Linked DNA regions of Homo sapiens. The protein of the gene in region 6 purifies or fractionates together with the protein of the main gene of each other region. This does not show direct contact. Each region holds a gene or a part of one and is shown on either strand. Other genes may lie near its edges. The genes, in order: WRAP53, TIAL1, SEC16A, USP9X, CREB3L2, SAV1 and BAG1.

Evidence for each region.
Region 1: the proteins of SAV1 (region 6) and WRAP53 purify together in Homo sapiens (co-immunoprecipitation; one large-scale study listed by IntAct). This does not show direct contact.
Region 2: the proteins of SAV1 (region 6) and TIAL1 purify together in Homo sapiens (affinity purification with mass spectrometry; 2 studies listed by BioGRID and IntAct, with this or other methods). This does not show direct contact.
Region 3: the proteins of SAV1 (region 6) and SEC16A purify together in Homo sapiens (affinity purification with mass spectrometry; 2 studies listed by BioGRID and IntAct, with this or other methods). This does not show direct contact.
Region 4: the proteins of SAV1 (region 6) and USP9X purify together in Homo sapiens (affinity purification with western blotting; one study listed by BioGRID). This does not show direct contact.
Region 5: the proteins of SAV1 (region 6) and CREB3L2 purify together in Homo sapiens (co-immunoprecipitation; one large-scale study listed by IntAct). This does not show direct contact.
Region 7: the proteins of SAV1 (region 6) and BAG1 purify together in Homo sapiens (affinity purification with mass spectrometry; 3 studies listed by BioGRID and IntAct, with this or other methods). This does not show direct contact.

What each region holds. Positions count from the first base shown.
Region 1 is NC_000017.11:7,698,477-7,701,239, forward strand, and holds part of WRAP53 (telomerase Cajal body protein 1), read left to right. Parts: intron 1-2,264; coding exon 2,265-2,353; intron 2,354-2,763. UniProt on the Homo sapiens protein: RNA chaperone that plays a key role in telomere maintenance and RNA localization to Cajal bodies. Specifically recognizes and binds the Cajal body box (CAB box) present in both small Cajal body RNAs (scaRNAs) and telomerase RNA template component (TERC).
Region 2 is NC_000010.11:119,586,965-119,590,464, forward strand, and holds part of TIAL1 (nucleolysin TIAR), read right to left. Parts: intron 1,285-3,500; coding exon 1,188-1,284; intron 1-1,187. UniProt on the Homo sapiens protein: RNA-binding protein involved in alternative pre-RNA splicing and in cytoplasmic stress granules formation. Shows a preference for uridine-rich RNAs.
Region 3 is NC_000009.12:136,473,041-136,476,540, reverse strand, and holds part of SEC16A (protein transport protein Sec16A), read left to right. Parts: coding exon 1-2,492; intron 2,493-3,500. UniProt on the Homo sapiens protein: Acts as a molecular scaffold that plays a key role in the organization of the endoplasmic reticulum exit sites (ERES), also known as transitional endoplasmic reticulum (tER).
Region 4 is NC_000023.11:41,214,445-41,217,944, reverse strand, and holds part of USP9X (ubiquitin carboxyl-terminal hydrolase 9X), read right to left. Parts: intron 3,378-3,500; coding exon 3,236-3,377; intron 2,047-3,235; coding exon 1,293-2,046; intron 726-1,292; coding exon 602-725; intron 1-601.
Region 5 is NC_000007.14:137,877,283-137,880,086, forward strand, and holds part of CREB3L2 (cyclic AMP-responsive element-binding protein 3-like protein 2), read right to left. Parts: 3' UTR 1-2,804. UniProt on the Homo sapiens protein: Transcription factor involved in unfolded protein response (UPR).
Region 6 is NC_000014.9:50,658,307-50,661,806, forward strand, and holds part of SAV1 (protein salvador homolog 1), read right to left. Parts: intron 1-3,500. UniProt on the Homo sapiens protein: Regulator of STK3/MST2 and STK4/MST1 in the Hippo signaling pathway which plays a pivotal role in organ size control and tumor suppression by restricting proliferation and promoting apoptosis.
Region 7 is NC_000009.12:33,254,709-33,258,208, forward strand, and holds part of BAG1 (BAG family molecular chaperone regulator 1), read right to left. Parts: intron 2,201-3,500; coding exon 2,093-2,200; intron 1,220-2,092; coding exon 1,157-1,219; intron 601-1,156; coding exon 511-600; 3' UTR 1-510. UniProt on the Homo sapiens protein: Co-chaperone for HSP70 and HSC70 chaperone proteins. Acts as a nucleotide-exchange factor (NEF) promoting the release of ADP from the HSP70 and HSC70 proteins thereby triggering client/substrate protein release.

The DNA.
Region 1 (2,763 bases), on a different chromosome or scaffold from region 6:
ATCCCAGTGCATTGAAAGGCTGAGGTGGCTGGATTGCTTGAGGCCAGGAGTTTTAGACCAGCGTGAGCAACACAGACCCCTGTTTCTACAAAAAAATAATTTTAAAGATTAGCCGGGCAGGCTGGGCGTGGTGTCTCATGCCTGTAATCCCAGCACTTGGGAGACTGAGGTGGGTGGATCACGAGGTCAGGAGTTCAAGACCAGCCTGGCCAAGATGGTGAAACCCCGTCTCTACTAAAAATACAAAAAAATTAGCCGGGCGTGATAGCAGGCGCCTGTAATCGTAGCTACTCAGGAGGCTGAGGCAGAGAATTGCTTGAGTCTGGGAGGCAGAGGTTGCAGTGAGCCAAGATTGTGCCACTGCATTCCAGCCTGGGCGACAGAGCGAGACTCCGTCAAAAATAAATAAATAAATAAATAAATAAATAAATAAGCCAGGTATGGTGGCTTATGCTTATATTCCCAGTTACTAGGGAGGCTGAGGCCAGGGGATTGTTTGCTTGAGCCCAGGAGTTTGAGGTTTCAGTGAGATGATTGCGCCACTGTGCTCCAGCCTAGGCAACAGAGTAAGACCCTGTCTCTAAGAAAAGAAAAAATTAAGTCTAAAGACCTGCAAGACAACGTTAGATACTGTTTTTTTTCCCATATGAATATACTCCTAGGCTGGGCGCAGTGGCTCACACCTGTAATCCCAGCACTTTGGGAGGCTGAGGCAGAAAGATCACTTGAGGCCAAGAGTTCGAGACCAGCCTGGCCAACGTGGCGAAACCCTGTCTATACTAAAAATACAAAAAATTAGCTGAGCATGGAGGTGAACTCCTGCAATCCCAGCTACTCGGGAGGCTGAGACACAAGAATTGCTTGAACCTGGGAGGTGGAGGTTGCAGTGAACTGAGATCGTGCCACTGCACTCAGCCTGGGTGACAGAGTGAGACTCTGCCTTTAAAATTAAAAAAAAAAAATTTATATATATATATATATTTATATATATATATATATTTATATATATATATATATATATATATTTATATATATATATATATATTTATATATATATATATATTCCTAAGGAAATGTATGACAGTGATAAATTCAAGATAGTGTTTACCTCTGAGGGAGAGTTTCTGTTAGGAAAGGGGTTTAAACATATCTTTTTGTTCAGCTGGATGGAGGGGTCACAGGGCTGTTTTTTTAATAAGATACTTTGTATGTTTGAACTGTTTAATTTTTTTTCTTTATTTTTGTAAGGAGGTTTTTTTGTTTCCATTTTTGTATTTTTGAGACAGTGTTTCTGTTGCCCAGGCTGGAGTGCAGTGGCAATGATCTCAGCTCACTGTGGTCTCTATCTCCTGGGCTCAAGCAATTCTCATGCCTCAGCCTCCCTAGTAGCTGGGACTACAGGCATGCACTACCATGCCCAGCTAATTTTTTTTTCTTGTAGAGACAGTGTTTCACCATATTGCCCAGGCTGGTCTTGAACTCCTGGGCTCAAGTGATCTGCCTGCCTCAGCCTCCCTAAGTGCTGGGATTACAGGTGTGAGCCACTGTGCTCAGCCGATAATTTTTTTCTTTTCTTTTTCTTTTTTTTTTGGGGGGCACTGTCTCTCTGTCACCTAGGGTGGAGTGCAGTGGTGCGATCTCAGCTCACTGCAACCTTTGTCTCCTGGGTTCAAGGGATTCTCCTGCCTCAGCCTCCTGAGTATCTGGGATTACAGGTGTCCACCACCACGCCTGGCAAATTTTTGTACTAATATTTTTTTAAAGGATCAAATGGCACCTAGCATGTACTCAGTAAGTATTTGAATAATTGGTTGGTTCTTTGTCTCTGGGTTGAGGTATTATTATTTGTTTCTTCCTCTCTAAGTGTTTATAAAGAAAAAGTATAAGGCCCGGCACGGTGGCTCACACCTGTAATCCCAGCACTTTTGGAGGCTGAGGCGGGTGGATCACCTGAGGTCAGAAGTTTGAGACCAGCCTGGCCAACATCATGGTGAAACCCTGTCTCTATTAAAAAAAAAAACAAAAACAAAATTAGCCAGGCATGGTGGTGCATGCTCTGTCTCAAAATAATAAAAAAAAAAAAGTATGAATCTATATGGCTTTTGGTGGCTAAATTTGACATTAAAGTCTGAGCTCACCCTTGAACATTGAGACAGAGTCTGTGCTCCATATATACACCCCATCTGCCACAACACTGCTAGAGGCACGCGCCTCAGACTCCTTTTCCCTCCGAGTGACTCAGCCATTCCCCCGTCTCTGTATAGGTCCCTGTCCTTCGAATGGTGGAAGGTGATACCATCTATGATTACTGCTGGTATTCTCTGATGTCCTCAGCCCAGCCAGACACCTCCTAGTAAGTAATGTTTGCCTCCCTGCTCGCCGCCCCACCACCCAGTTTCAAGCAGGGCCTCTTGGGAGAGTCAAGGGCTGCCAGGGGTCTTTGGAGGAGGAAGGCTTGGCATGCTTATCAGAGGGGCTGGTCAGTTGGCTTCCTCCCCTTCCTTTTTTTTTTTTTAGATTGAGTCTCCCTCTGTCACCCAGGCTGGAGGGCGGTGATGCAGTCTCAGCTCACTGCAACCTCCGCCTCCCAGGTTGAAGTGATTCTCCTGCCTCAGCCTCCTGAGTAGCTGGGATTACAGGTGTGCACCACCACACCCAGCTAATTGTGTATTTTTCATAGAGATGGGGTTTCACCACGTTGGCCAGGCTGGTCTCGAACTGACCTCAGGTGATCCACCTGCCTTGGCCTCCTGAAGTGCTTGG
Region 2 (3,500 bases), on a different chromosome or scaffold from region 6:
TCCATTATATCTCCAGTACCTTGTATAGTGCCTAGTGCAAAGGAAATTTTTGATCGATGAAAGCACAAATAAATAATTAAAGGCAGGAAGGAAAAATATAATACACCAGAACAAAATGATGATTGTCATTACTTGGGAAAGACAATCAAAAGGCCAATGCACTTTAAAGGTTTTTAACAGTTCTCCGTTTCAGGATAAAACAAACTCTTTAGCACAGTTTCTAGCCCTTTCCATAAACTCCTGCCATCTCTTACGACTAATTCCATTTTAACTACAACCATGCTACGGGTTCTATTTTTCCCTCTCTGTCTCAAGCACTCCTGCTCTCCCTACCAACCTGGATCAAAGTTCCCTTTATTTGGAATCCCTTCTTCCCTCAATTCCTTTCTAGCCAGTATGTACTACTATCCTTTCAAGGTTTCCGCCTAGGCAGTGAGTCCTCCAAGAAGCCGCTCACTGACCTAAGGCTGCACTGGATACACATTTGCTCCCACAGCACTTTAAGTTGTCTGCTTCTAGAGCATTTATTATCCTACTTCCTAAGTGCCTGCTAACTCCTTTGTCTCCCTACTAAACTGTAAAATTCTCTGGGCCAAGGAACTATCTTTATTCACCAGTGTATCTCTAGCACTTACTGCAGTATCTAGTACATAGGAAATAGTCCAAAAAAAAAAAAGAAAGCTGATCAATGAACAAAAACACAAGGAAGAAAAGCCTAAAACATGACTAATTGGGTGCTGCTACAGTCTTAGCAGGAAAGTATAAAAAGGTAAGTATTTGCTACAGACACACGAGACGAACGGTGCTGCACACTACACACATAATAACTTCGTGTTCTCGCACATGAACACATGCTGTCTAAATCGTTAACATTCTTATTGGAATTGTATGAAATACTTTCCAATTTTTCACCATTCTGAAATGAGCTCTAATAATGTTCTGAAAGCAGAATCACTTCAAGATAACCACACCATGAAGAATGACCGTTTGAGCTTAACAGCACGGAAACTTTGCCCTCTTAAATAAAACTCCATTCTAAGCCTAGTTTGTCAGCCAAATCAAAGTAATAAGTCAACACAACACAAATCTCTCCACCAGAATAACTTGAGGCTTACAATGAAATTTTAAAATCATGCTAATCAACCCATCATGCTAATTGTCAGCACATGGAACTGGGAAGATCTTACCTCTGTTATCATTTTACAGCTTTTACAGGGTCCAATCTGACTGAACAACTGAAGTATAAGGACTTCTGTCACATCTCTGGAAAGGTTACCTACGTATCTGCACAAGAAAAAAATACGTTATCAGCAATTTTTCCTTTAGCTCTGGCTCTAATGTGTTATCATCTAATTCATCACCTTTTCTTTCTTTCTTTCTTTCTTTCTTTTTTTTTTAGATGGAGTTTTGCTCTTGTTGCCCAGGCTGGAGTGCAATGGCATGATCTCAGCTCACTGCAACTTCCGCCTCCCAGATTCAAACGATTTTCCTGTCTCAGCCTCCCAAGTAGCTGGGATTACAGGCGCATGCCACCATGCCTGGCTAATTTTTGTATTCTTAGTAGAGACAGGGTTTCATCGTATTGGTCAGGCTGGTCTTGAACTCCTGACCTCAGGTGATCTGTCCGCCTTGGCCTCCCAAAGTGCTGGAATTACAAGCGTGAGCCACTGCGCCCGGCCACCTTTTATTTCATTTTAACTTCCTCTGTTTTCAACAAAATTTCTCCAATTAAACCTGATCCTATGAAAGTAAGATTAACCCTTATTTAGGAAAGCAACAATTGTTCTTAGGCCACTAAAATACCACTCTGAAAGACATTTAAAGAACAAATCAATGTGATCTTGTATACCCCAATGGCATTATTATTCTGTACCCTGGATATCATTTTCTCATCTTATTCTAATTGTTAAAATTTTAAACTGGTCTCAAGATAACTACAATTTCTAATTAAAAATAATTTATAACACACACACACATACAACAAATACTAATTCATTAAAACATCTGATTGTAATAGGATATTAAACATAAAGTGAGTTTATCTTAGATTCCCAACCAAAGCAATTACATGAACAAAGAACAGAATTAAAGTTATAGTAAAACATACAGAGGGTGGAGGGTTTTTGTTGTTTTGTTTTTGGCTGAGTAAGGTTGTTTGCAATGATGTCTTCACTGTTTCATTTTAGGAGAGCAGGGTAAAATATAAAATTTCCTAGTCTAAAATGCATCAGAATCAACAAAATATATATGTATTTTTTTGAGATGGAGTCTCACTCTGTCACCCAGGCTGGAGTGCAGTGGCATGATCTCAGCTCACTGCAACCTCCGCCTCCCAGGTTCAAGCGATTCTCCTGCCTCAGCCTCCCAGGTAGCTGGGACTACAGGCGTGCACCACCACGCCCGGCTAATTTTTGTATTTTTAGTAGAGACGGGGTTTCACCATGTTGGCCTGGCTGGTCTCAAACTCCTAACCTCAAGTGATCCACCTGCCTGAGTCTCCCAAAGTGCTGGGATTACAGGAGTGAGCCACCATGCCCAGCCAACAAAATATATCTTAATGTAGATAAAAAAGCTAATACAAAGATTTCTTAAGAAATTCAGAGAAAAACTAAGACAAATCCAGGCATACTTTTGACTATGGACACTTAAAAATTTGGGTTTTTTTTCCTAATTACAATTGAATGTGTTTTGTGTAAAAGATTTTAAATACAGGAAAGTTTAAAAAAGAAAAGAAAAAAATGCTACTTCATCACACAGAGAGGACCACCTTGGTTTATGTCTTGTACTATGGATTTATCTTAATTTATCTAAATAAATTGCCAAACACTAAAGTCTTTCTGGTATTCTACACATAATTCCTCAAATTTGCATCTGTTATGAACAACCTCATAAACCAAACAATATCTGTAAAATTTAACAAAGTTCATTCTGGAAAGTAGATTTCTTTTTCTACTTGTAATATATTACATCTGGAAACTGAGTATTAAGACCAAAATAAGACTTGCAACATAGCTGCCACATTAAATACACAACATGCTTTAAGATGGAATACTCAAAGGGAAAAATAGACTGAGAAAGCTTAGGTTAAGTAAAAAACTTAAAAGATCCAATTAAGAATTAGTAGCGATTTTCCAGTTAAGAATTTTATTGCAATGAGTACTAATAATCTTAGTGTACCTGCTCTAAAATTGAAACACACATCCAATATTACCTAACTAGAGGACTAAACAAGTGACAAACTGTTTTACGTCCACTATGCCACCTTTTCCACGTAATTAAGGAGCTGATCCATCAGCAGGCCAATGTAGTGACATACTTTTTCCAGCAGGACTAAAAGGTTATTGGGTTATGAGCCAGCGATAGGCTGCTTGCCCCTTCTTAACTCATAGGGGTTTGTGAGCCTGTATCTCTGAAATGATTTCTTTTTGTACAGAGTAGACCTATCTGTAAGAAAAATGAACAAGTGACCAGGCATGGTGGCTCACGCCTGTAATCCCAGC
Region 3 (3,500 bases), on a different chromosome or scaffold from region 6:
GTGCCCCGCTAGAAGCAGACTCAGGAGCTTCAGGAGCTCTGGCGATGTTTTTCCAAGGGGGAGAGACAGAAAATGAGGAGAATCTCTCATCTGAAAAAGCAGGCTTATCTGGTCAAGCGGACTTTGACGATTTCTGCTCCAGCCCTGGGCTAGGCCGTCCGCCCGCACCTACACACGTGGGGGCAGGCAGCCTCTGCCAGGCCCTTCTCCCAGGCCCCAGCAATGAGGCTGCTGGTGATGTGTGGGGTGACACAGCGAGCACAGGGGTGCCGGATGCCAGCGGCTCGCAGTATGAGAATGTTGAGAACTTAGAATTTGTTCAGAATCAAGAAGTTCTGCCAAGTGAGCCCCTCAATTTGGACCCTTCCTCCCCGAGTGACCAGTTCAGATATGGGCCCCTTCCTGGGCCAGCTGTGCCCAGGCATGGTGCTGTGTGCCACACCGGAGCCCCTGATGCCACACTGCATACAGTGCACCCTGACAGCGTGTCATCCAGCTATAGCAGCAGAAGCCACGGAAGGCTCTCAGGCTCAGCCAGGCCCCAGGAGCTGGTTGGCACATTCATTCAGCAAGAAGTTGGAAAACCCGAGGATGAAGCTTCAGGTAGTTTTTTTAAGCAAATCGATTCTTCTCCCGTAGGAGGTGAAACAGACGAGACCACTGTGAGCCAGAATTACCGTGGCAGCGTGTCCCAGCCCTCAACCCCGAGCCCCCCGAAACCTACAGGAATATTTCAGACAAGTGCAAATAGTTCTTTCGAACCGGTAAAATCTCACTTAGTTGGGGTAAAACCATTTGAGGCAGATCGCGCCAACGTGGTTGGTGAAGTAAGGGAGACCTGTGTCCGCCAGAAGCAGTGCAGACCAGCTGCCGCCCTGCCCGATGCTTCCCCTGGCAACCTGGAGCAGCCACCAGACAACATGGAGACCCTCTGTGCACCCCAGGTCTGTCCCCTGCCTCTTAACTCCACCACGGAAGCTGTGCACATGCTTCCGCACGCAGGGGCACCGCCCTTGGATACTGTGTATCCAGCACCCGAGAAGAGGCCTTCAGCCAGGACCCAGGGGCCCGTGAAGTGTGAGAGCCCAGCAACGACTCTGTGGGCGCAAAGTGAGCTGCCAGATTTTGGAGGCAACGTCCTTCTGGCCCCTGCAGCCCCGGCGCTTTATGTGTGTGCAAAACCTCAGCCACCTGTTGTTCAGCCTCCAGAAGAGGCGATGTCCGGGCAGCAGTCACGGAACCCAAGCTCGGCGGCCCCGGTGCAGAGCCGAGGTGGCATTGGTGCTTCTGAGAACCTTGAGAATCCTCCCAAAATGGGAGAGGAGGAGGCCCTTCAGTCCCAGGCGAGTTCTGGTTATGCAAGTTTATTATCCTCACCGCCCACTGAGTCTCTGCAGAATCCTCCAGTCTTGATTGCTCAGCCTGATCACAGCTATAATCTGGCTCAGCCCATTAACTTTTCTGTGTCCTTATCGAACTCTCATGAGAAGAATCAGTCCTGGAGAGAGGCTTTGGTGGGGGATAGACCTGCAGTCAGCAGTTGGGCTCTCGGTGGTGATTCTGGGGAGAACACTTCTTTGTCTGGGATTCCAACCAGCTCTGTCCTTAGCTTGTCTCTGCCTAGCAGTGTTGCCCAAAGTAATTTTCCACAAGGTTCTGGTGCTTCCGAAATGGTTTCTAATCAGCCTGCTAATTTGCTGGTTCAACCACCATCCCAGCCAGTTCCAGAGAACTTGGTTCCAGAAAGTCAAAAGGATCGTAAGGCAGGAAGTGCTCTTCCCGGATTTGCTAATAGCCCTGCTGGAAGCACAAGTGTGGTGTTAGTTCCACCTGCACACGGCACCCTGGTGCCTGATGGTAATAAGGCAAACCATTCCAGTCATCAGGAAGACACTTACGGAGCCCTAGACTTTACCTTAAGCAGGACTTTGGAAAATCCTGTAAACGTGTACAACCCGTCCCATTCTGACAGCCTCGCTTCTCAGCAAAGTGTTGCCAGTCATCCCAGACAATCTGGGCCTGGGGCGCCTAACCTTGACCGTTTTTATCAGCAGGTCACGAAAGATGCCCAGGGCCAGCCTGGCCTCGAAAGAGCCCAGCAGGAGCTGGTGCCACCCCAGCAACAGGCTTCTCCCCCACAACTACCCAAAGCCATGTTTTCGGAGCTGTCAAATCCAGAAAGTCTGCCCGCACAGGGACAGGCCCAGAACTCAGCACAGTCACCAGCAAGTCTGGTTCTGGTCGACGCGGGTCAGCAGCTGCCCCCTCGGCCTCCTCAGTCCTCTAGCGTGTCTCTGGTGTCCAGTGGCTCCGGCCAGGCAGCTGTGCCGTCAGAGCAGCCGTGGCCACAGCCAGTGCCTGCACTTGCCCCCGGCCCACCGCCTCAGGACCTGGCCGCCTACTACTACTACCGGCCTTTGTACGATGCCTACCAGCCTCAGTACTCTTTGCCGTACCCACCGGAGCCTGGCGCAGCCTCCCTCTATTACCAGGTAAGAGTCGAGTCGTATGTGTAACCCACTTTTCTGTCTGTGCTTTGACCAGTTGAGTCTCACTCACAGTGTATTCCTTAGTAGTGTTTGTTCGCTTGGTTCCGGGGTCACCCACAGTCCCGCAGGCGTGAGAACAGTATTCCAGTAACGCTTCCTGAGGACAGGGCTCCCGGCTCCAGAACCTACTCTCCCAAGCACAGGCCACCCTTAGTTCACACCACGCGTTAGCATCTTGAATTGCTTATAATACTTGCTTAGGATTTGAACCAGCCTCCCCAGCTTATGTGACAAAAAGAGCCCTCCATTTGCTGTCACCCCTGCTCCTGCTGGCTGTCTGCAGAAAAGTTCTGTCTTGCATGCCTTGGGAAGCTGGGCTAGCCTCTGGAAGCTTACGTCAGAAGCATTGGGTATAACCATAGTCCTTTAAATGCCCCTGGAGAATAAAAACATGGAGAGAAAATAGTTTTGGAGCATGAGCCACACGCATCAGCTAAGCGAGGCGGAGTCCCGCAAGCTGCTGTCAGCACGTGGTGGTGCGGGCAGCGGCTCGGGGACCGGCTGTGCTCGTGCAGAAGATTCTTCTGTGCCTCTTTTTCACAGGGACACCAGCTCATGAGTGACATTTGAGTTAGGTTCCGCATAATCCTGCAGTCGTTCGAAAAGTGTCTGTGTACACATTTGATCATTATCTGCTTTTCCTACCCTCTAACCCAGTTCAACATACACCGATTGGGTTCACCGATTCAGTGTCACCCCAGGTAGAAGGATTGTGTGATAGGGAATTGGAAAACCATGGTCTTGCGGTATGTAAGGCCAGTTGGAACCAGACTTGGGGCCACACAGGAAGGCCTTGCAGTCAGAAGGGGGCCCGCCCCGAGGAGCAAGGCTGCCGTGGCTTGCTGGGTACTGCCCCGGGGAATGGGGCTGGGCCTCCCCCATGGGCCTCGAGCATCATGGTTTGTGTGCGTGTGACCAGGTGCACACCTGACCCCTCAGACCTGTGTAGGT
Region 4 (3,500 bases), on a different chromosome or scaffold from region 6:
ATTTCATAAGTAGCTTACACTTTTCAGTCTCATCTTGTAATCTTTGGTTTTGTTTGAGACAGGGTCTTGCTCTGCTGCCCAGGCTGGAGTGCAGTGGCACAGTCATGGCTCACTGCAGCTTCAACCTCCCAGGCTCCAGCGATCCTCCCACCTCAGCCTTCCGAGTAGCTGGGATTACAGGTGTGCGCCACCATACTTGGGTAATTTTTAAAATCTTCTTTGAAGAGATGGGGGTCTCACTATGTTGCCTAGGCTGGTCCTGAACTCCCGAGCTCAAGCAATCCTCCCACCCTGGCTTCCCAAAGTGCTGGCATTACAGGTGTGAGTCACTGTCCCCCAGTCTCAGCTTGTAGTCTTTGGTGCAGGGATGTCAAAGATATGATACAAGGTAATAGAAGCAGAAGTCAGCTTCTGAATAACAAAAGGCCATGTTTAGACTAAGTAACTATTTTAATATGATTTCTCTATTGTGACCCAGAGTTTTTATTCTATATTCCAAACTTCAAACAAAATTCTCTTGGTTTAGAAAAACATAAAGCAATCTATTAAAGAAGCAAACCAAACATTAGTATAATAGGAATGAAAATCCAAAGCAATGTACCAATCACTGGCAGAGCCACGGACTACTTTCTTTGTGTGAAATCCTGTAGTAAAGAGGAACCTAGCAGCAAGTTGAATACTGATCATAGTGATTTCTTCTGCTTCAGGCAACAGGTGATCTTGCCCTATAAATAAAATGCAGATATAAAAACACATTTTTATTTTCCAACCCCATTTTCAAACAAGTCTGTGTTTCCATTAATTTTGAGAAGTCCTAAATTTGTTAAGAACCCTTCTCAGGCTACTTTAATTTAGACCCATTTATTTTTTTATTTTATTTTTTTGAGATGGAGACTCACTGTCACCCAGGCTGGAGTGCAGTGGCCATCAATTTGGGTCACTGCAACCTCCACCTCCCAGGTTCAAGCGATTCTCCTGCCTCAGCCTCCGGAGTAGCTGGGACTACAGGGAGTAGCTGGGACTACAGGTGCATGCCACCATGCCTGGCTAATTTTTATATTTTTAGTAGAGATGGGGTTTCACCATGTTGGTCAGGCTGGTATTGAACTCTTGACCTCAGGTGATCCACCTACCTCGGCCTCCCAAAGTGCTGGGATTACAGGCGTGAACCACCACACCCAGCAAATTAGACTCATTTAAAGTGAAAACATTAATTTTATGAACTTAAACATGTTGACGCCTACTATAAATTATTCTTTATTACTAAGAAGCTAAACTCTCTTGATACTCACCGGGAGGAGGGTTTAAGTAAACGCCATTACATGTAAGCAGTTTTTTCATAAACTGAAAATACTCCATACTGTACTGCATTCGGTTATGCATGAATTGTACGTTCTGTTTCCGTACACTTCTCTCAATGGCTGATGGCATAATAATCTGATGAGGTCTGGTGGTGATAGCAAGCTCTGATATATATCTTATCAACTCATCATCTTGGTCTATTGTGTCCATTCGTTCATAAAAAAGTATATAAGCATTCCACCACCTTTTCTGGCGCCTGTATGACATACGCTTCATCATGTGATCAAACACTTCTCCCATGTACTCTCCACCAAAACACTGGTTTTTCATTTCTTCGTCATCATCCATTTTACATTCTGTTACATCACCATCATCAAATTTATACCAGCGATTTCTCTCACCATCTCCACCATTCCTTTGGATGATGTAAGAATAATAATGCCCCCCACTCGCTTGACCACTGTGTACGAGCACACCCACAAGTCTGTATTTTGTGCTTCCTGCTGTCTCACTTTCAGACTGCTCACTCTGTTGTATCAACTGACTCTCTGGGTTTACATTATCCCCTTCCAGCTTTGCGACACCTGCAACTGTGTAAGGTTCCATGTCCAGCTCTCGAGGAAATTCAAAATAATCATTGAACTTGATTGCACATTCTCTTTCCCAGTCATAGTCAAATCGCTTTAGTTGTATAGCAAGAACAGGAGGTAATTTTTTAATCAGCAAGCGCTTTACGGTATCAACCTAAAATAAACAAGACAAAGTTACCAGATGTTCTATTAAAATCCACAGGAAAAAAAAAAAAACCCCAAGCAAACTTTTAAATGATATTAAGACTTATCTGAATTTTTAAGTATAAACAAATACATGACAATGAGCATAATCAAGATAATCCTATCAGCTGATTTAAATGCTGAAATTAATAATATGCAAATGGTAAATTGTTGACTGGTTTCTGTCATTGTTATCTAGCCATTATTACCTGTTTGATGTTTACTGTTGTTCCCACGAAGGTGGTTTCCTATGCACAAACCAAAGAACTACAATAACAATAAGAGTAGCTAATATTTGTTGGGTAATTCAGATGCCAGGTAATATATACTAAGTGCCGCACAAGTAAAAACATACCGAATCCTTACAACCTTCTCAAGTGTGTACTACTGAACCTTAAAAGATGAAAACTAGTAATCACAGAGAGGTCAAGTAACTTGCCTCAGGTCTCAGGAGCTGCAGGTGGCAGGCAGTATGGCTTTACAGCCCACAATCTCAATCTTTAAACTTCAGGACTTCTCTAAGTGGTGCATAAGGCCAAAACAACACAAGTGACTTGAGGGTGAAAGGGTTTGGGAGCTCCCAAAGATACACCTTATTCATTACTATAATGCGTGTGAATCATCTCTCTCAAAGAACTGCTAATAAGTTTCCAAAATAAATGGTTTTATAACATAGGTGATAAAAGAAATCTTATGGGCCACTTGACTAGTCTAAAAGAAATCTTATGTGGTTCAATAAAGTAATTAATGGTTTCAGCAAATGTTTTGGTCTTGACAAGTAATCCTGGACATGACAGGAGAAATGTTTTCCTCTATCAGCTCTGTATCTTTGAGGGGTTCAATGGCAATTTGTTTCTCGGTAGAGATGGAAAGTGTCTGTGTAACTTATATAAGAGAATGTGCTATCACGTTATGACTTTTAAAATTATTCACTCTTATTTACCTATTTTTATCTTATTTACCTAGCCCCTTTGGCACTACTTTTTTTCCTTCCTTGCCAAACCTTCTATTAGTTATCATATTGACTACTTCTCTGCTACCACTATACCAAAGTAGGAGAAAATAAAAATAGGGTGACTTGTGAGGATGAACCAAAAAAACCAATTTCTTCTAAATCCATTAAATGTAATCAAAATTAAACAAAACTGGACAGCCCGTACCTTTTTATTGCATTTTTCACAATGATATGCATTTGCACCTTCTAGTAAATCTCCTTTGACATACTGTTCCAAAGAATCAAGAAGATTTTGGTGATTTCTAATGTCTACGTTTAGGGTCGTAAAAGATTCTTCACATTCGTACCTAAAAACGATTTAAAAAAAGGATTTATCCCTTAGTTTTGTAAACATTTTAGTTATGGACTTAATGTAAACTACATTTGCCTTTTTTTTTTAAATTATACTTTAAGTTCTAGGGTACATGTCC
Region 5 (2,804 bases), on a different chromosome or scaffold from region 6:
TTAACCAAAAGGTTATCTAATTTTGCCCATATTGGTGTCAAATCTCATCCCCACTCCCTGCCAAAAAAGAGCAACCTAGTTCAGCTGTCGGATTTTTATATAACACTCTCTTTATGTGAGCTAGACTCCAGAGTCCTCACACTTCACAGAAATTCTTTCTTAAAACTGGCACTGCAGCCTTTCATTTACAATATCCCTTTTTAAGTGCAAAGTCGAGGGCTGTGAAAAGAACCACGGTGGGGGGTCTGGGTTACTCAGGTCTTATCCAGTGAAAAATTAGTTCTCTGAATCTTTGCAAAACATCTCCTTCACTGGTGCAATCTAAGAAAGGGAAATGGGAAACTTGTTTACATGATGAAAAATATAATTAAGAGATTGACTCTTTATGGCTTATGGCCGCTCTGACAGACTCGTATTTCTCAAAACTTACATTCAGAAGACACTGTCTGCCACTATTTGAAATCTTTAGAGCTAATCATAAGTTAATGACTAGTCTAAGAGGCCACTTGGTGGGGAAAACAAATCCACTGATATTCTGGTCTTAATCCCTGAACAGAAAATGTGCACACATCCATTAACTATTTGGAACCAATCTGGTGCTATACAACTCTTCTGTGTCCTCTTGACCCCATTTTGTCCTCCTAAAGGGACAACTGTTAGTTCCTTTAACCCACTCAAGCAAGGAGTGGAGGGCAGAGGTTTATCTAAAAGAGCAGTGATGTTGGTTCTTGGAGCCCCCTTAAAAGGGCCATCTGAGCTCTCTGCCTAACGTCCCATTGTCTACATAGATTCCGTTTTGGAAGGATGGTTTCCCAGAGAAAGAGTCCTGCTGTTTGGAGGTCGAGAGAGAGTGACGTCAAGCAAGCGTAGTAAGGGAGAAAATAAAATCCTCAAAGCACTAAGGACAGGGGCTAGAAGTTTCCTTTATCTTCTCCCTCCTCATTTAGAAGAGCACGTTTCCTACTCTACGTCTGGGAGCCTTGAAAACCCAGTCTGGTTCAGTTGCAGCAGGTACATGGGTTGGCTCATTCTCTCACTTCTGCCCCTAAATTTGAAACCTTTCCTTCCTCATTGCCCAAATGCTACTTGAGTAAATCTTATCTTTTTGCCTTCTTTGGGCCCTATAGGCTGCCTATGCCTGATAATGACCTGACAGTTTAAAAGAGAGGGATGGGTCAGTGGAGGCCCATGGTTACCAGACACCAGCCAGGCCCAACAGGATCTGGGCTGCAGACAGTGGAGCAGAGAGAAGCAGAAGCAGAACCTACTAGCAACCCTCCTCCTGCACAGCTCAGACAGTCTCCGCCCTGGCTAATGGGAGGGACAACAAGAACCCTCCAGACAACAGGGCTGCCAGGACTACGGGGGCCCGATCCAGCTTCCACTCACAGTGAGAAGATGAACTTGGCCGCTTTCCAGGCTGGAACCGTCTCCAGCATAGCAGAGAGAGGGGAATCACTCACAGGGAGCCCCAAATGGGCCTAGACAGACAAGGCAGGGACCGACTTATGAGGTATGACGACAAATGTTAATAACATCAAATCCTGTACCTGATATGGAATGGAAGCCAGGGTGTGGGCTTAATCCCTCTAAGTACAGGCTCCAATAACAATGCAGATGACGTGTGTGGGGGTGGGTGGTGGGGGGAGAGAGAGAAGGAGAGACAGAGAGAGAGAGGGAGAGAGAGAAGCCAAAACCAAAGGCATTTCAGCTGCTAATAAAAATAAAATACAAACTCTATGCACATTTCCTACACAAAATCTTTCCCAAGCTCGGAAAAAACACTTGAGGGTTTTCTACATTACACAATAAAAAGGCAATTTCCACTTCTTATTTATATGAAAGAGGAAAGATTTTTTTAAACTACAAAAGTTACTTTTAACCATAAAAAAAAAACAAAAAAACTAAAAGTAGGTTGGGGATTAGGTTGTATCTCTTTGGGCGAGCTGCAAAGTAGCCAAACCTGACTACCAAAGGTAAGAATGTGGATACACAAATGTCACCTACCCCACCCTGCTTTGTTGAGGTAGGGGACGAGGAGGACAAAGTGGAAGTGTGGAGGGAGGAGGGGGCCAGGCAGGTGTGGAAAGCCAGCAAGGTTGTCTGAAATGTCTGTTGTCAGAACAGGGCTTCCCCTTCTCTGTCATGAAAACAGGATAGAAAAAGCTTGTGGCCAGGGAGCCCGGGGCCTGAGTGAGGCATTGTGTCATCTCTCGCTCTGAGCTCATCCTAGAGGCAGACACATACATGCTCAAAGGAACTTCTTTTTCAATGGTAATTATTCCAGTTAAAAGAAAAAACAAAGGAAAGGAAACAAAACATTGTCTGGAAAGACACGGGATCCCAGAGCCTAGGGTGCCCTCCTAGCTCTGAAGGCTCGCAGAAAACTTGGCTAGCTTGAAAGGAGGCATCGATCTCTTCAGTGTGGTTGCTAGCAGGAAGCCTCGGCAAGCTAATAAATACTATTTACAACTGGGGAGGAGAAGCTGGGGAGGCAGAACTATGGATGTGTGGGGAACCAGGTTGTGGGAGGTCCTAAAAGCGACAAGATGGGGCAGGTTTGCCTGGAGTAGAAAAGCCTGATCCCCTCAGGCATTGCACTTGCGGCCTGAGAATATGAACGAGAGCCCTCGCCTGCCAGTGCTGCTGCAGGAGACGAGACGATCCAGCGAGGGCTCCCAGGGGGCAGAGTGGGCGGAGGGCTGCTGTCGGGGGTGTTCACACCAGAGACCCCAGTGCGAGCAACGGAGGACACGGGTCAGTGCTTTGCCAAATACCAACAGGCATTATGGCATTTTTGTGGC
Region 6 (3,500 bases):
GACAGAACTAAAATTTAAGCGCAAAACAAAGGAATTCAGTCTGCCTTTAGTATTCCAACTAAAGACTTCCTGTTAACAGCAGGATTCCTTTCTTTGGAACATACAGTAAGTGCGTGACTGGTATGCGGCCAAGAACATTAAAGGTCAAATTTTCTAATCTGAAAGTTCTACAGCTAAACGTAGAACTTTCTAGGCTCTAAAACTTTCTGAGATTATACAACTTGTTTTTGTGCTTCTACTAAATACAATAAGCTGAATTTAACCCTTGACACAAGGTGTTTCCTGAAAATCTAATAACTAATTGACAGGAATTACTATTGCCATTAAGTCATTACAAAACAAATTTTCCAACCTTTTTATGCTTATGACAATCAAAATTCAATGTTTCTGAAAATAGATCTATCGCACAAACCTATCCTATCCTCCTACAAACTTACTTTCTCCTTTCTATTCATTCAAATTCCTTGAACCTTATTCAGCATAAATCCTAAAAATATGTTTTAAGTCTTCTCAAGGTGAATTCAAGAAACTTTCAGCTACTGTCTCATATTCAGATTTTTCCCTTGTGGAAGAGGCAGTTATTAGGCTTTTCTGTTTGGCATGTAATTGGTTATTAATCTTTCCCTGCAACTTTAGAGATTCCTTCAAAAAAAGTACTACTTTTTTCTACAAGGTAAAACATTAAATCTATATTGCCCTGATAAAAATTAATCTTATCAAATGAAGTCTCTCAAGCTCTCAAGCAGTGTATCAACTGCTGTAAAGAATTTTTTTTTTTTTTTTTTTTTGGTTGGGAGAGATACCTTATTACCTGAGATTCTTCAACTACCTGCAACCTTCTTTAAACCTAACGCAATCTGATATAAAAGAGCCTGGGATGAGACTTCGAAGGCAGAAGTCTACTGTCTCATTAAAACAAGGTCTTGGCTATTCCATGAAATCAAATCTTATTTCAGTGCATGTGTGTTCCAATAAAACTACTGTATTGCAGGAGGCAAGTCTATCTGGCCTATGGGTGTAGCTTGCTGACTCCTGCTGAAGCCTCCCTCATAAAATTAAAAACACCCTCAAGATTAAAATTACGGTAGGGGCCCGAATTTTGATAAAATATTTTCCTTCTCTTTTTCCACCTCCATGTATGACTGCTTGCAAAGTCATTTCAACAAATGGCAGTCACTAATAATTGTCTTCCTGTGGCAGCCCCTGGGCAGGCTGCCCATAAGATTAACAAACCTGTTTCTTTTAAAGAACAATAATCCAGACTGGGTGCTGCGGCACATGCCTGTAATCCCAGCACTTTGGGAGGCCAAGGCAGGCAGATTGCTTGAGCTTGGGAGTTTGACCAGCCTGGGCAACACTGAAATTCAGTCTCTACTAAAAATACAAAAAATTAGCCAGGTGTGGTGGTGCATGCCTGTAGTCCCAGCTACTCAGGAGGCTGAGGTGGGAGGATTGCTTGAGCCCGAGGTCGAGGCTGCAGTGAGCTGTGATCATGCTACTGCACTACAGCCCGGGCAACAGAGCAAGATCCTGTCTCAAAAAAGAAAATAGAAGAGAAGAACAAGAAAACAATGATCCTAGATCACACAGACCCCCTTGATAGTTTCCAGAATTTGGACTGGCCAAACAGGCCAGGCCACTTTGATCACTGGTGATCTCACCTCCTGCAAACTCTTCTGCTAAGCTATAGGTTTAAACAGTAACCTGCCATTTTTTCCCAGCTTTCTTTCCATAGTAACTGGCAGTCACAAACACTACTGTAAAACCTAAGACTGGTCTTCGAGATATTTTTCAGACTTTGCTTACAAGTGGACCAACTGACACCAAATGGACCAGTGTTCCATGAACTCAACCAAGGAACTGACTTGGTCTTGTGACTCCCCAATTTCCCAGCAACTGATTCAGCACATGAAGACAGCATTGATAACCCTATGATCTCATACCAGTCCAATCACCAGCACCCATCCCCTAGCCCCCTGCCTGCCAAATCATCTTTAAATATCTTAGCTTCTCCAGTCTTGGCGGTGATGACTCTGAGAAACATTTCCCATCCTCCTTACTCAGCTGCCTTGCAATAATTAAACTCTTTCTTCTTTACAGTATCTGCTGTCTCAGTGTTCTGCTCTATTCGGATAGCAGACAAGAGCCCAGTCAGGTGGTAACATTGTTTTATAGCATTTTTTGGATACATAATTATTTGCACATGTTTATGGGGTACATGTGATATTGTGATACATGCAAAGAGTATGAAATAATCAAGTCAGGGTATTTAGGGTATCCATCACCGTGAGTATTTATCATTTCTATGTGTTGGGAACATTTCAAGTCCTCTCTTTTAGCTATTTCAAAATGTTAACTGTAGTTACCCTACTCTGCTATCAAACCTTAGAACTTATTCCATCTAACTTTATGTTTGGACCCATTAACCTACCTCTCTTTACCTCCCCTCCCATCCTTCCCAACCTCTGCTATCATTCTATCTCCATGAAATCAATGTGTTTCGCTCCCACATGTGAGTAAGAACATGAGACACTTCTCTTTCTGTGCCTGATTTCCCTTAATATAATGACCTCCAGTTCCATTCAAGCTGCTGCAAATGACATGATAAACATGGGAGTGCAGGTATTTCTTTGATATACTGATTTCTTTTCCTTTAGATAGATACCCAGCAGTGGAACTGCCGGATCATATGGTAGTTCTGTTTTCGGTTTTCTGAGAAATTTCCAAACTGTTTTTCATAGTGCCTGTCCTAATTATTGTAACATTCCCACCAACAGTCTGTAACAGTTGCCTTTTCTTCACACTCTCACCAGTAGTATATTTTTTTGTCTTTTTAACAATAGCCATTCTGACTGGGGTAAGACACCTCACTGTGGTTTTCACTTACATTTCCTTGACGATTAGTGATGTTGCACATTTTTTCACATACCTTTTGGCCATTTGTATGTCTTCTTTTGAGAAACGTCTATTCATGTCCTTTGCCCACTTTTTAATGGGGTTGTTTTTCTTACTGTTGGCTTCCTTGCATATTCTGGATATTAGTCCCTTGCTGGATGAATCTTTTGCAAACACTTTCTCCTATTCAATATGTTGTCTCTTCATTCTGTTGTTTCCTTTACTGTGCAGACGCCTTTTGGTTTAATATAGTCCCATATGTCTATTTGTTTTTGTTGCCTGTGCTTTTGAGGTCTTAGCCATAAAATCTTTGTTAGATCGATGTCCTGAAGTGTTTCCCCTACATTTTCTTCTAGTACTTTTATAATTTCAGGTCTTAAGTCTTTAATCCATCTCAAGTTGAATTTGCATATGGTGAGACAAGGGTCAGATTTCATTCTTCTGCATGTGGATATCCAATTTTCCCAGCATCGTTTATTGAAGAAAGTGTCCTTTTCCCAATGCACGTTCTTGGTGCTTTTGTAAAAAAATCAGTTGGCTGTAAATATGTGGATTTATTTCTGCATTACCTATTTTTGTTCCATTGGTCTATGTGTCTTTCTATA
Region 7 (3,500 bases), on a different chromosome or scaffold from region 6:
TCACAATGAGGGATAAGTGGTCTACTTATGTGCCAAACACCTTGTTCTAGGCCATTCCCAATATTCCTGACTAGGTGCAACCTCCTGGTGATTCTGGTTTTACAGCTATGGGACTACACGATCACAAGAGCAAAGAAGCCCTCATGTATCTGAAGACTGAGGGGGCCTATAAACCTGAAACTGGCCCAAGGCAAATTAGAGCTCTCACCAGCCCAAAGAAAGCACCCAGAGGTCCAAACAGCTGGGAAAATTTGGGCAGAGGTGGCCCTCTCCAGAAAAGGTGGATTGCTGGACAGTACAACCACAGAGACAGAAGGAGAAAACAGATAGGAGCTTTACTCAAAATCACAAAGACACTATTTTTCATTGAGAACCAGTGTGAGAGTAGGAAAATTGGCAAATGGCCAGTTGCCCCCAGCAGCCCTGAAGAAATCAGGTAAATTCCGCTCCAGAGACGGCAGAGCTGGTGGCGCCATTCTTCAGGGCAGCACAGCCTTTTTCTGCTACACCTCACTCGGCCAGGGCAAAGTTTGTAGACTGCAGCCGCTCAGTCTCCTGGCAGATGTTCTGCTCCACTGTGTCACACTCGGCTAGGAATGCCTAGAAAATACACACGGGGCAGTAAGGGCCCATCCAGGGGTAGCCGACCACTGCCCACACAAGGCTCCTTGCTTACCCATTCTGGGGAACCCATGGCTGAGACTCAAAACAGATTGTGCATGAATGGAGATGGGCCACTGGCCTGGGTTCCAAGGTAAGGGGAGGGAGGGAGCATAGGACCAGCATTCTGACCATGCTCTAGGCCAGCAATCCCCTAAAAGGTGGTAAAGGCAGGGAGCTTTGCCTCAGGGCCACTGCACAGCAACTGCACAATCGCAGGAAGCACTGTGTGCATGAATACTGCCTCCTGGAATTGTGTAATGTGTCAGCCCTACCTGCTCTCCAGTGAGTTCCCTCCCTAAATAGTTTAAATTCAAATATAATTACAGGGACACAGGTGGCTCTTCTCTGACGTTTGGGGTTCCTGCTGATAAATATAACCAAAACAAGCCCATACCACACACCACGCTCCTACACTACCTGATTTTGAACAGATAAACACACATACCTACACATTAACATATTACACCTTGTCGTGCACTATTACACAACTCACCTGAACCTTTTTTACCAAGCCTTTCCTTTTCAATCTACTGTCTTTGAAATTTTCTGGCAGGATCTATGGAAGAGTAAGTTGATAATACAAGTTAGTAAATAGTAAACATGTAACAAATAATCCTCAGTGAAAATGACATGAGAGCACATAAGAAACACCCACAGTACACAAAACAGGTCACAGGTCACCAATGTAAATGTGATATCCATTTTCAGGAACCCTTTCCCTGGGTCTGTATCCTGTATGGCCTTTCCATGGCTCTTGTCCCTATAAAAGCTCCCTGTGTTCTCAATGTCTGGGCCATAGGAACTGATCTTTAACACAGACTTTGTTCTTTTATTGTTTCCTATGTATGGATACTCTGCCCTGGCCACACCATGGGCTCATTGTGACAGGAAAAGTGCCTGCTGCTGCTTCTTTACACCCACCCTGGCCAACAGAAGTACACAGTGCAGTTCACCTTCAAGAATGAAGCATCAGGCTAGAGATATCATTACTATCATCTGCAAAAGAGTTAATGATTTTCAATGGCCTCACATGACCTGGGTCTGGCTGAATCATCTATAAGTAATGAGCCCTGCAGAATTATCAGTCACATATTCATCAGAGAAAGTTAAATCCTCTGTTTCCTGGACCATGAGATCGTGGACTCCTTGGGTCCCAGCTTCATGACGATTACAGATGCTACTGGCAAACATAAGTGTAAATGATAAAAGTCCTATGCTGGAGGGCTGTGAGTGCCTAGAAAGCAGGAACTGTCTTATCATCATGCATTCACCCAGGACCTAGCAACATGACTGGCACACAATAGTAGATGCTTAATATTCTCAAGTGATGGGTTTGCTCAGGCAATAGGAGAGTAAATTACTGAAAGAGTGAATGTGACTGAAATAAAGTCAAAGAAAACTAGTTCTTCTCAGCTGAATATTTACTTACCAGTGTGTCAATCTCCTCCAAGATCTTCATAAACTGCTCTATTGTGGCTTTTACTCTCCTATCAAGTTTGCAGAGAGCTTCAGCTTGCAAATCCTTGGGCAGAAAACCCTGCGGGGAAATAATGCATTATTGCAAGGGTTCTCTGAGGCTGACGGAAGACTCCATGCCACAATACTAATGATGCAATCACACTGAGCCCACCATAGCCCTGGCAGGCCAGGCCACATCTCAGATCCACAACTTTAACTCTTGGAAAAATTAAAAAGGCTGGCCGTGGGCCAGTCCAAGAATTCTATCAGGTTGCAGTCTGCTCTACCTCGCATGACCCACTGTGGCTGCAAATGCCTCCTGAGGCTTGGCTCCAGTGAAGCCCCCAGTCACAAGAAGAGGCAGATGTTAAAAGCACAGGTTTAGAGTCTTCAAAGCCTACGCCTGAAAACTGACTGCCATTTACTAACTTGTGATCTTGAGCAAATTATTTAGCCTATTCATGCCTCAGTACCCTCATTTTAAAAATGAAGATTATGATGCCCACACCCTAGATGGTTACTGTGAGGTAAAGGGAATATATGTACATGTGTCACTAACTTGTGGCACAGACGCATGCTAAAGAATGGCAGCAGTGCTTATTTTTATCAAATTGTCTAATGGTTCACTCACACAGCTTGGCCTAATGACCAGTTAGCTGGTGACAAGAGTTGGATAGCAGGGATCTCTGAGGATGTTTATCACAGCCACGAGCTACAGACACAGATTTCACAACACGTAGCAAGAGCTTTAAACATCACCCAGCAATTCCAACTCAAAGAATTTATTCTACCAAAAAAACCAGGAATGGTCAAAAAAGATTTACGTCCAAGGACAGTCAAAGAAGCATTACACATAATGGTAAAAATAATATTAAATGAACAATACAGAGTTGGCTAGGTAAATAATACATTTATACAAGATGAAATGCATGCGAGCTTTGAAAAATACCATCACAGGAAAATGTTTAATTTTTTATCCAATAAAAGAATAGTTTATAAAGTGTAAATAACATTATATCAAATTTTTTTAAGATGAAAAATATATTTCAGGCTTTGGTAATCGTCATCTCTGAGTTGGTGCCCCATGGGTAATTTTTATTTTCCATATTAGTGCCTATACATGTACTTAAAACTTTTGTACAGTCAGCATGTATTCTGTAATTAAAACACAAACATATAGGCCGGGCGCAGTGGCTCATGCCTGTAATCCCAGCACTTTGGGAGGCCGAGGCGGGCAGATCACTTGAGGTCAGGAGTTTGAGACCAGTCTGGCCAACATGGTGAAACCCCATCTCTATTAAAAATACAAAAAAATCAGACAGATGTGGTGGCAGGCGGCACCTGTAATCCCAGCTACTCGGGAGGCTGAGGCAGGAGAA